Linked DNA regions of Homo sapiens. The protein of the gene in region 1 purifies or fractionates together with the protein of each later gene. This does not show direct contact. Each region holds a gene or a part of one and is shown in the gene's direction. Other genes may lie near its edges.

Region 1 (3,652 bases):
CTAGTGGAAGAATTAGAACGGCTGGAAATCTGGAATGGCTGTTTCATGATACCAGTAACTCATCAGAATTGAAATTTGTATGATTATTAGAAATTTTTTGCTGCTCTGGATTTTGTGTGAGGAAGTGCCCTGGCTTCATTTATGTTGAGTTTACATGAAGAACTTACTAGAACAGAGGAAAACTCATGAAGTGTGAGACCACTCCTGTGTGTAAGATGAGCCTATTCAAGTCAGCAGTAGTTCCCATGATAAAGGGATATGTGGTAATGTCTTCCTTTGGGAGTTAATGTCTCCCTAATGCAGGGCTTTATTTTTCTTTTTAATTGGTAGCTGTATCGGTGAGTCTTTCAGCACCTGAATTGAAAACCAGCACATACGTAGGAACATCTAGTTTTTAGTCATCAAAAAAGCCAGTGTGATACTAAATTAAAATGTACATTGTAGAAGTAAAAACAGGACTCGAAGATGATTAACCTGGGCAGCAAGTTGAGTCCTTGTACCTCCAGTGTTTCTCATACTGCATTTTAAAATTAATTCCATGAATTTGAGAGATATTTTTTAAGTGACTGGAAATCTTTGCAATTCATTTTTCATAAGATCACAAAAATTAAATAGGATGAGTCTGGATCATCTAGAATGAAACTTTAAAGGAGCGAAAAGAAAGGCAAATGATGTTTGCAAGTGACTAATACTTAAAGAGCCAGGCTGCTTAATGTTTCGGTCAAGAAAATCCCATAAATGCAACAATATTTTAATAATAGAAAAAACCAACTTGGTCTCGAAGGTAAAAGTTTGGGGTTTTAAAAACCATTATCTTCAAAGAATCAGTTAACTATTAAACTCTGTTTAAAACAGGCATTATGTATTGACTCTACCATAATCTTTATTTATGTCTAGATTTAGGTAGGTAAAATATGGTATCTTTGAGAAAATGAAGTATTTCCTTTTAAGCAAATGTTCTCAAAATTTCCAAGGGTAAGTGAAGTGATTATTATATTACTTATAATGGTTAAGGCAGCATTCAAAAGATGACAGTTTTAAAAAGGAGTAGGTGGAGAATATGTACTTTTAAAGAACTTCTTGCTTTTCTAAGATGAACATTTTAAAGATATATTTTGGATACAAGTTGCCTTGTAATTTTCACCAGGACATGAAAAGTTTTTATTAGGTTGTTTCTTTGTATGCTAATGTATCATGTTGATACCTTTATAGGTATTCTTTTTTTTTTTTTTTTTTTTTTGAGATGGAGTCTCACTCTGTCTTCCAGGCTGGCACTCAGCTCACTGCAACCTCCGCCTTCCGGGTTCAAGCGATTCTCCTGCCTCAGCCTCCTGAGTAGCTGGGATTACAGGGATGTGCCACCACGCCCAGCTAATTTTTTATTTTAGTAGAGATGGGGTTTCACCGTCTTGGCCAGGCAGATTTTGAACTCCTGACCTTATGTGATCCACCCACTTTGGCCTCCTAAAGTGCTGGAATTACAGGCATGAGCCACCACACCGGGCCAGTATTCTTAAGCTTTCTGACTGGCATGGCCCAATTTAAGATCTGATGTCCCTAAGGCAACTTGACCAGAACTCTGGATAGGGGCTTCTAGGAAAATAAAGTGACCTGGAATATGTGTGTCACCTTTTGATTTGCATTTACTTAGGTGTACTCTCCTTTTTTCATAGTTGGCACACAGCGAGCTAGCCCTGAGAATATGGGTTTTGAGGTTAGCCAGACTAAATCCTTCTGATACATTATCAATTTTTACTCCTATTCAGAATATCAGGGACTATTTTAGGAAATATTCTGTTTCAAAAGGTTATCTTTGTGGTAACTTTGTACTTTTAAAATCTTGCCACAATAATTTTGATTTATAGCACACGTGTAATATTAACCACTCTTTCCTTCTTAGATCCATGTTCACTAGCGGCCTTACAGAAAGTACTCAAAAAGAAGTTCGAATAGTTGGTGTTGAAGCTGAATCGATGGATTTAGTGTTGAACTATGCCTACACTTCCAGAGTTATTCTTACAGAGGCCAATGTTCAAGCCTTGTTCACTGCAGCTAGCATCTTCCAGATTCCTTCCATCCAAGACCAATGTGCTAAGTATATGATCAGTCATTTGGACCCACAGAATTCTATTGGGGTCTTTATCTTTGCTGATCATTATGGTCATCAGGAACTCGGAGATCGATCAAAAGAATACATTCGTAAAAAGTTTCTGTGTGTCACCAAAGAACAAGAGTTTCTCCAGTTGACAAAAGACCAACTGATAAGTATACTAGACAGTGACGATTTAAATGTAGACCGAGAAGAGCATGTTTATGAAAGCATTATAAGGTGGTTTGAGCATGAACAGAATGAAAGAGAAGTGCACCTTCCAGAAATTTTTGCTAAATGCATACGTTTTCCTCTGATGGAAGATACCTTTATAGAGAAAATTCCACCTCAGTTTGCACAGGCTATAGCCAAAAGCTGTGTAGAAAAGGGACCATCCAACACCAATGGCTGTACACAGAGGCTTGGAATGACTGCTTCTGAAATGATCATATGTTTTGATGCTGCCCACAAACACTCAGGAAAGAAGCAAACAGTGCCTTGTCTAGATATAGTCACAGGAAGGGTGTTTAAACTATGCAAACCACCAAATGACCTGAGAGAAGTTGGGATTCTTGTATCACCAGATAATGACATTTACATTGCAGGAGGGTACAGGCCAAGCAGCAGTGAGGTCTCCATCGACCATAAGGCAGAAAATGATTTCTGGATGTATGATCATTCCACCAATAGATGGCTATCCAAACCATCCTTGCTTCGAGCCAGAATAGGCTGCAAACTTGTCTATTGCTGTGGTAAAATGTATGCAATCGGAGGTCGTGTTTATGAAGGTGATGGGAGAAACTCACTAAAATCTGTTGAGTGCTACGACAGTAGAGAGAATTGTTGGACGACTGTTTGCGCGATGCCAGTTGCAATGGAATTTCATAATGCTGTGGAGTACAAAGAGAAGATCTATGTTTTACAGGGTAGGTGCCTAAGTGATTTAGTTTTTCATGGAAGGGTAACACATCAAGTGGTGGTTTACTTAATTATACTGAAACAGTTGTGTTCCCGTTAATTGAGGAATACCTCCAGCTTCCTTATCAAACTATTGGAACAGTCTGTTCTGTAAAGAGCTATAAAGAAAATAAACTCTTGAATTAAAAAAAGGCAGGTATTGTTAAATTACTAAAATAATCCTATAATTTTTAATGATTTTGTGTCTTGATATCATGTAGAATAACTATTTTTGAAAACATTCTTTAATAAATAATAGTTCGGCATTTTGGGATAACTATTTCAGAGTAGTTTGTAGGACTTGAAATAAATAGCAAGGTTGTTACATGGCTGTTTTTGCTCTTGAGTAAAATTGAGATGTTGTAGCAACTGGTATTCTGTGGAATTTACTGGATTAGTTTAAAAGAGAAAAGAACAAAGCATTAATTAAGTTATACTATTTAGTTACCAAAGAGTTTTATATAAGCCTTATTATTGCAAAAATTATGAAATTTAATTACAAAGAGTTTGGAAGTATGGTCTTCAAGTTTCACCTTCACTGCTGTTTATGTTGCCTTTCATAATACATTTTCAATTTTTTTCACCGGAAAACTTTGAGATGTCCCT
Region 2 (3,652 bases), on another chromosome or scaffold:
GCAGTGAGCCATGATCATGCCACTGCACTCCAGCCTGGATGAGAGAGTGAGACCCTGTCTGAAAAAATAAAAAAAAAAAATACCTGGACAGGACTAATCACAGGGCAGGAGTATGATGGTTGCTGCAAGGTGCTCTGGGAACAATCATATATTCATTCAACAAATGTTGATGAGTGCCTTCTGAGTGCCCAGGGCCTGGGGATTCAGCAAGGAAGGAGTCTACTCTGTCCTCCAGGGATTTAGAGCAGAGCAGGTGGTCATAACGCAGGATGACATGTGTTGTGGGAGGCTTAAGGAGAAGTCCCCAACCCAGGCCCAGGCAGGGAGCATGGTACAGGAAGCTCTCCTGGAAAGGAGGTGGCGTTGGAACTACTGAGCTTCATCTGGAAGGATGAATAGGCCAAGGGGGCGGGATTGGGAATGATATTTCTGGCCAAGGGTGCAGAATGTGCAGTGGCTTGGAGGCAGGAAGCAAGGCGTGCAGCCTGGGGCCTGGGCTGGGGATGATAGTGAGCCTTAAGAGGTAAACACAGACCGGTCACCAGCAGTCTGGGAATGTCAGGCTAAGGAGAGAGCATTTTCTCCTGAAGTGGATGGTGATTCAGAGAAGAGTGTGAGGCAGCAGAGGGCTGGAAGCAGATGTTTTCATTTCAGAGAGATGTCTTTGGCAGCGCCAAGTAGGGTGGATGGGAAGAGCAGGCCTAGAAGCAGGAAGACCAGTGAGGAGGCTGGGGAGAAACCTGAGAACTAAGGCTGTGAGCTCTGAACTTAGGCTGCAGAGAGGATAGAGTTGAGAAATATGAATGTGAATAGGAGGTGGAGTCCATCAACCTTGCTGGTCGATTGGACCTTTGCCAGGTATCTGGTGTGTGTTAGAATTACACGCATAATCTCAATGAATTCAACTGTAATCTAGTAGTGTAGTCATTGTTGTCCCCATTTTGCAGATGAGGAAACAGACTAGAAGAGATTAAGTATTTGTTCACTGCCATTCAGCCAGCAAGCATAAGAACCCAGGCCTATTGACCCACAAAGCCCTCTCTGCTACTCGACGCTTTTGCCCAAGAGAGGGGGCCTTGTCTGGCTCACAGTTGGCCTCCCCAGCAGCTCCCAGCCTCAAGTTGTGCGTCCTTTCTGGGCCTTGCCGTTTCCACTTACTCAACAGACAACATGAAGGATCAGATTTAGACAACAGGAGGGACTTCCTGAGAGGCAGTGGTAGGGAATGGAATTTCCTTTCCTGCAGATGAACTCCTCTTTTTTCAGAGAAAGGAGGGTGATGAGGACATGTAATCACCAGCTCTCTGTGAACTTTGGCTGTCATTTCTCTTGGTGGTTAAGCCCTGTGTGACCCATCTTGGCTGGAACATGGGGAAGTCCTGTGGCTTTGGCCAGGGCTGCTCATGGGGCCGCTGGGAGTGGTAGCATCAAGTCTGGCCCACTGTCTCTGATCCCTGATTCCAGGCCGGCCTCTGGGCTTCAGACTTCTCCACTGCTCTCTTCCTTCCAAGTTTGGGCCTCCTTGCCTGAGGCTGACGCCTCCCGTTGGCATGGGTCCAGAGGTCCTGAGTTGTGGGCTTGCCACTTCCAGGGCTTCTGACACTTTGGGTTGGTGGCAGTAGAACAGCAGGCTGGGAGTCAGCACACCCCAAGTGAGGTCCTGGCCTCTACACAGCCATGCTCCGCTACTGCCAGAGTGCCCGCGCCTACCATCTGGCTGAGGCCTGCATGGCTGGGAGCAGCTTGGTGAGGGAGCCAGGGCAGTCTGTTATAGGCTGGACGTAGTGGGGCTTCTGCATAGAAGGGTCTGGATCCTGGGGTAAGAATCAAGGTGCGAGGCAGGGCTTTGGAAATGTGGATGAATGACATCGCATAGGGAGGAGGTATAGAGTATGAAGAGAGGATGATTAGGGACAGCCAGGGCCTTGGAGAGCACCAGTGCCTGGGTATGGAGAGAAGAGGGAGGAAACTGACGGAAGGCCATATTCTTGGAGCCAAAGAAGCAGGGACAGACCCACAGAGGATGAGCTGGAGCGAGACCCCTCAGATTCAGCCAGAAGGCATTAGCTGGTGGCATGGGTTTTGGTGGAGTGGTGAGGGCAAAACTAGGCTACAGCGGGCAGAGAGGAGTGGGAGGGGACCCTGCTTTTCTACATGCCTGGAGCAAGGCTTGAGCCTCTTGGAGGAAGGGCGTGAGGCCCTGGGCTGGGAGCAAGCAGTATGGCGGCAGGCAGTGAAGACTGGGTATGGGAACCTAGGGGTTTTATCTCATCCACCCCCTCCCTCTGCCTTATGTCCAGAGGCAGAAGACCACTGCCCTGTGCTCTCCTTTCAGGCTCAGGCTGAGGGGTTGTGAAGTGTGAGCTGGTCCTGGGGAAGACATGTAATGTGCTGGCTCCAGAAAGGAGGGGCTTCTGACTCAGGTGGGGGACTTGGAGGAAGGCTTCTTTGAAGAGGTGACCCCGGAGCTGGGTGCTGGAGTATGAGAAAGACTTAGGCAGGAGTAAGGTGTTCTAGACAGAAGAAAGAGCCTAGGCCAAGGTGCAGATACTGGCTGCAGGTGTGGGAGTGTGAGGGGTGAGGCTGTGGAGGAAGGGACAGCCTTGGCCAGCAGGTCTTGGATGCTGGAGGGGGTGGTTTCAAGGTACTTTCTTATTCATTCATACCTCAGGCTGAGTGAGCTCCCCATTTGGTAAGCAGCTTGTGGTTCAGGGCTATTTCTGTTTCTCAGTTGATGCTTCCTTACCCACGCTGGGTCTGCTTCCCCAGGAGATGCCTGGCAGAGGTTTGCTGAACTGGACTGAAAATTTTTTTCCCTTCTTGCCTCTGCTATCGGTCCAGGGACTCCCTAAGTGCTGAAATTAGGCCTTTCCCATTAGTGAATCGTAAGACTGAAAGCGATATTTCCCACATTAGGCAAGTTCTCAAAAGAGAGGGGTGGGGTCCTGACTCCTCCATCAGACTGGGAAGTCCTGAGGGACAGGGTTATACCACTCCTATTAGCATGGGGCGCCTGAGCGGGAGGCCTGGGGCTCCCTCATCTGATTGGCTTTTGCAGGTGGGAGCCATGTCTCCCTCCTCAGACTGGAGGCTTCTGAAGGAAGGATGTCTCCTCCATCACACCGGGGGCTCCTGAGGTTGGGGCCTTGTCTCCCATGTGAGCCCTGGGATTAGAACAGGTATCGTCTCAGATGGTCCCTGGGCACCCTGTGTTCTTCCCTCCTATGTGGACAGGATGGTTCCTGTCCCAGGGGTGGCTTGAGTCCTAGTAGGGGGTTGGAGAACAGAGGGGGTTGGCAGGACAGGGTGGCTGCTTTTGAGAGGGTAACAAAGGACTCTGTTGTCCCAGCCCCCTCCCGCCTTCCCTAAGGGGCCCTGGCAGGGTCATCTCTCGGGAGACGCGCCTCCTCCTTCCTGGGACTGGCCCCATCTTTAGCCCCACTTCAGAAGAACTGCTTGTTCCTTCCCAGGAGACCTGGTGCCAGATGAAGCCCCTGGGAGTTGGACAAGACAGGTCCCCAGAATTGTGTGTGACTAAGGTCACCGCAGGAACTGAACAGCTTTTCCTCTGCCTGGGGCTGGGCGGCACCTGGCTGAGGCCACAGTTGAGCTTCTGCCTCCCTGCACCTGGAGAGGGATCTGCTGGTCTAAA
Region 3 (3,652 bases), on another chromosome or scaffold:
AGGCTGAGGCAGGAGAATTGCTTGAATCCGGGAGGCAGAGGTTGGAGTGAGCAGAGATCATGCTACTGCACTCCAGCCTGGGTGACAGAATGAGACTCCATCTCAAAACAAACAAACAAACAAAAAAACAAGAGTAACCATATGATCCAAAGCTACTTCTGGGCATATCCCCAAAAGAATTAAAAACAGGGCCTCGGACATTCCATAATGCATACATATTTCAAAACAACATGTTGTGCATGATAAATATATATAATTTTTATTTGTCAGTTTTAAAAATAGTGATAGAAAAATATTTAAAAAAAAAAAAAAGGGTCTCAGAGATATGTATACCTGTGTTCATAGCAGCATTATGAAAGCCAAAAATGGAAGCAACCCAGATCCACCAATAGATGAATGGGTAAACAAAACGTGGGCCAGCCATGCAATGGAACATTGCTCAGATTTAAAAAGGAAAGAAATCCTGCCAGGCGCAGTGGCTCATGCCTGTAATCCCAGCACTTTGGGAGGCCGAGGCAGGTGGATCACTTGAGGTCAGGGGTTCGAGACCAGCCTGGCCAACATGGTGAAACCCCATCTCTATTAAAAATACAAAAATTAGCCGGGTGTGGTGGCACATGCCTGTAATCCCAGCTACTCAGGAGGCTGAGGTAGGAAAACCGCTTGAGCCCAGGAGGCAGGCGTTGCAGTCAGCCAAGATCATGCCACCGCACTCCTGCCTGGGTGACAGAGTGAAACACTGTCTCAAAAAAAAAAAAAAAAAAAAGGAAAGGAATCCTGTCTTATCCTGCAACACGGATGAATCTTGAGGACATTAGTCTAAGTGAAATAAGCCAGTCCCCAAAAGACAAATATTGTATGATTCCAGTTATATGAGGTTCCTAGAGTAGTTAGATTCATAGAGACAGAAAGTAGAATGATGGATGCCAGGGAGTAGAGGGAGGGGGAATGGGGAGTTTATTATTTAATGTGGACAGAGTTTCAGTTTTGTAAGGTGAAAGTTCTGGAGATGGATGGTGGTAATGGTTGCACAGCAATGTGAATGTACTTAATGCCACTGAACTGGATGGACACTTTAAAGTGATTATGATGGTAAATTTTATGTTACATGTATTTTACCATAATTTTTTTTTTCTTGAGACAGATTCTCCTCTGCTGCCCAGGCTGGAGTGCAGTGGCACCGTCTCAGCTCACTGCAACCTCTGCCTCCTCGGTTTGAGCGATTCTCTTGCCTCAGCCAACCCAAATAGCTGGTGGGATTACAGGCGTGCGCCACCACACCCGGCTAATTTTTGTATTTTTATGGAGATGGGGTTTCACCATGTTGGCCATAATTTTTTTAAAAGAAAATTTGATTCGTAATCTCATGGCAAAAAAGGAAAAAGAAAGAAAATTAATACGTATGTACAAAAAAAAAAGGGAGTGTGGAGAAGAGTAACAGGAGAGCAGACACCCATATTACCACCACCTGCGTTAGGAAATAGAATATGGCAGCCAGGTGCCACGGCTCATGCCTGGAATCCCAGCATTTTGGTATTTGTAGGAGGATCACTTGAACCCAGGAGTTCAAGACCAGCCTGGGCAACATAGCAAGACCTTGTCTTTACAAATAATTTAAAAATTGGGGCATATGGCCAGGTGTGGTGGCTCACGCCTGTAATCCCAGCACTTTGGGAGGCCGAAGCGGGTGGATCACAAGGTCAGGAGATCGAGACCATCCTGGCTAACACAGTGAAACCCCAACTCTACTAAAAATACAAACAATTAGCCAGGCGTGGTGGTGGGCGCCTGTAGTCCCAGCTACTCGGGAGGCTGAGGCAGGAGAGTGGCATGAACCTGGGAGGCAGAGCTTGCAGTGAGCCGAGATCGCGCCACTGCACTCCAGCCTGGGTGACAGAGCAAGACTCTGTCTCAAAAAAAAAAAAAATTGGGGGTACATGTCATCAGGCCCTCCTGAATCTGTGTCACAGAAAAAAAAACTAAAGGGAAAAAAAGAGAAGACAAGCCAACCAAAAATTAACCAGGCGTGGGCATGGTGGCTTGTGCCTGCGGTCCCAGCTACTTGGGAGGCTGAAGTGGGAGGATTGCTTGAGCGCAGGAGGTCAAGGCTACAGTGAGCTGTGATTGCACCACTGCATTCCAGCCTGGGCAACTGAGCGAGACCCCATCTTAAAAAAAAAAAAAAAGGAAAAGAAATAGAATATTTCCAGCTCTCCAGAAGCCCCCTCTTGTCTCCTCCACAATTCCATCTCCTTCCTCTGCCATAGAGGTGGCTACTCTCCCGACTTTTATCATTTCCTTGCTATAATTTGTAGTTGTAGAACCCCATGTTTGCATCCCCAAAAACTTTTGTTTAATTTTGCCTGGTATTAGAACTTTATATTGACAGGCTCATACAGACTATTCTATCACATGGCTTCTTTCATTCAACATTGTTTAGGGGCTAGGCATAGTGGCTCATGCCTGTAATCCCAGCACTTTGAGAGGCCGAGGTGGAGGGATTGCTTGAGCCAAGGAATTTGAACCCAGCCTGGGCAACATGGTGAAACCCCACCCTACAAAAAAATGCAAAAAACAAAACCAAACTAAAAAAAGCATTGTTTTGGTAGACTCATCCATTTTGTTGTGACAAGCTATAGTTAATTCATATTTATTCCTGTTTAGTAATCCATTATGTTAGACTGAGCCATATCGAATTGCCTCTTTCTGAAAGCAAAAAAATAGTTAAATATCAGCAATTTCGTACTTCAGCTACTAAGATGGTATAGCAGTTTTAAAATATTAATTCTCCTGTTAATGGACTGTGGGATGCCTCTATTTTGGACTGTTACATACACTTTATATAAATGCATCTCCTGATGTATACCCACATGCATTTGGCTAGGGTAAATCCTCAGGAGTGCCTGGGCGCGGTGGCTCACGCCTGTAATCCCAGCACTTTGAGAAGCCAAGACCAGTGATCACTTGAGGTCAGGAGTTCAAGACCATCCTGGCCAACGTGGCAAAACCCCATCTCTACTAAAAACACAAAAATTAGCTGGGCATGGTGGTGTGCGCCTGTAGTCTGAGCTACTTTGGAAGCTGAGGCACGAGAATTGTTTGAACCCAGAAGGTGGAAGTTGCAGTGAGCCGAGATTGTGCCACTGCACTCCATCCTGGGTGACAGAGAGAGACTCTGGCTCAAAAAATAAATGAATAAATAAATCCTTAGGAGTATGTGGCTGGGACTTCCATGTAGAATAAAATTGAATTTGGATCCCTGCCTCACATCACACCATGTAAAAAAATCAACTGGATTAAAGGCTTCAATGTCAAATGCAAAACTTTACAGTGGGAGAAAAGTTATGGAGGGGAGGATTCATTTTAAAAAGATAGCAGACAGCTAGGCCTGGTGGCTCATGCCTGTAATCCCAGATACTTGGGAGGCTGAGGCAGGAGAATATCACTTGAGGCCAGGAGTTTGAGACCAGCCTGGGCAACATAACAAGACTCATCTCTACTGAAAAAAAAAAAAAAAAAGAAAAAGATAATAGACATGCCCCTTTCTGCCAGGATTTTCTTTCTTTTTCTTTTTTTTTTTTCTTTTTTTTTTTTTTTGAGATGGAGCTTCACTCTTGTTGCCCAGGCTGGAGTGCAGTGGCGTGATCTCGGC

The links.
Region 2: the proteins of KBTBD8 (region 1) and ARRB1 purify together in Homo sapiens (affinity purification with western blotting, with the first as the bait; one study listed by BioGRID). This does not show direct contact.
Region 3: the proteins of KBTBD8 (region 1) and PKN1 purify together in Homo sapiens (affinity purification with western blotting; 3 studies listed by BioGRID and IntAct, with this or other methods). This does not show direct contact.

Annotation. Positions count from the first base shown.
Region 1 is NC_000003.12:67,001,295-67,004,946, forward strand, and holds part of KBTBD8 (kelch repeat and BTB domain-containing protein 8), read left to right. Parts: intron 1-1,900; coding exon 1,901-3,015; intron 3,016-3,652. UniProt on the Homo sapiens protein: Substrate-specific adapter of a BCR (BTB-CUL3-RBX1) E3 ubiquitin ligase complex that acts as a regulator of neural crest specification.
Region 2 is NC_000011.10:75,345,025-75,348,676, reverse strand, and holds part of ARRB1 (beta-arrestin-1), read left to right. Parts: intron 1-3,652. UniProt on the Homo sapiens protein: Functions in regulating agonist-mediated G-protein coupled receptor (GPCR) signaling by mediating both receptor desensitization and resensitization processes.
Region 3 is NC_000019.10:14,453,795-14,457,446, forward strand, and holds part of PKN1 (serine/threonine-protein kinase N1), read left to right. Parts: intron 1-3,652. UniProt on the Homo sapiens protein: PKC-related serine/threonine-protein kinase involved in various processes such as regulation of the intermediate filaments of the actin cytoskeleton, cell migration, tumor cell invasion and transcription regulation.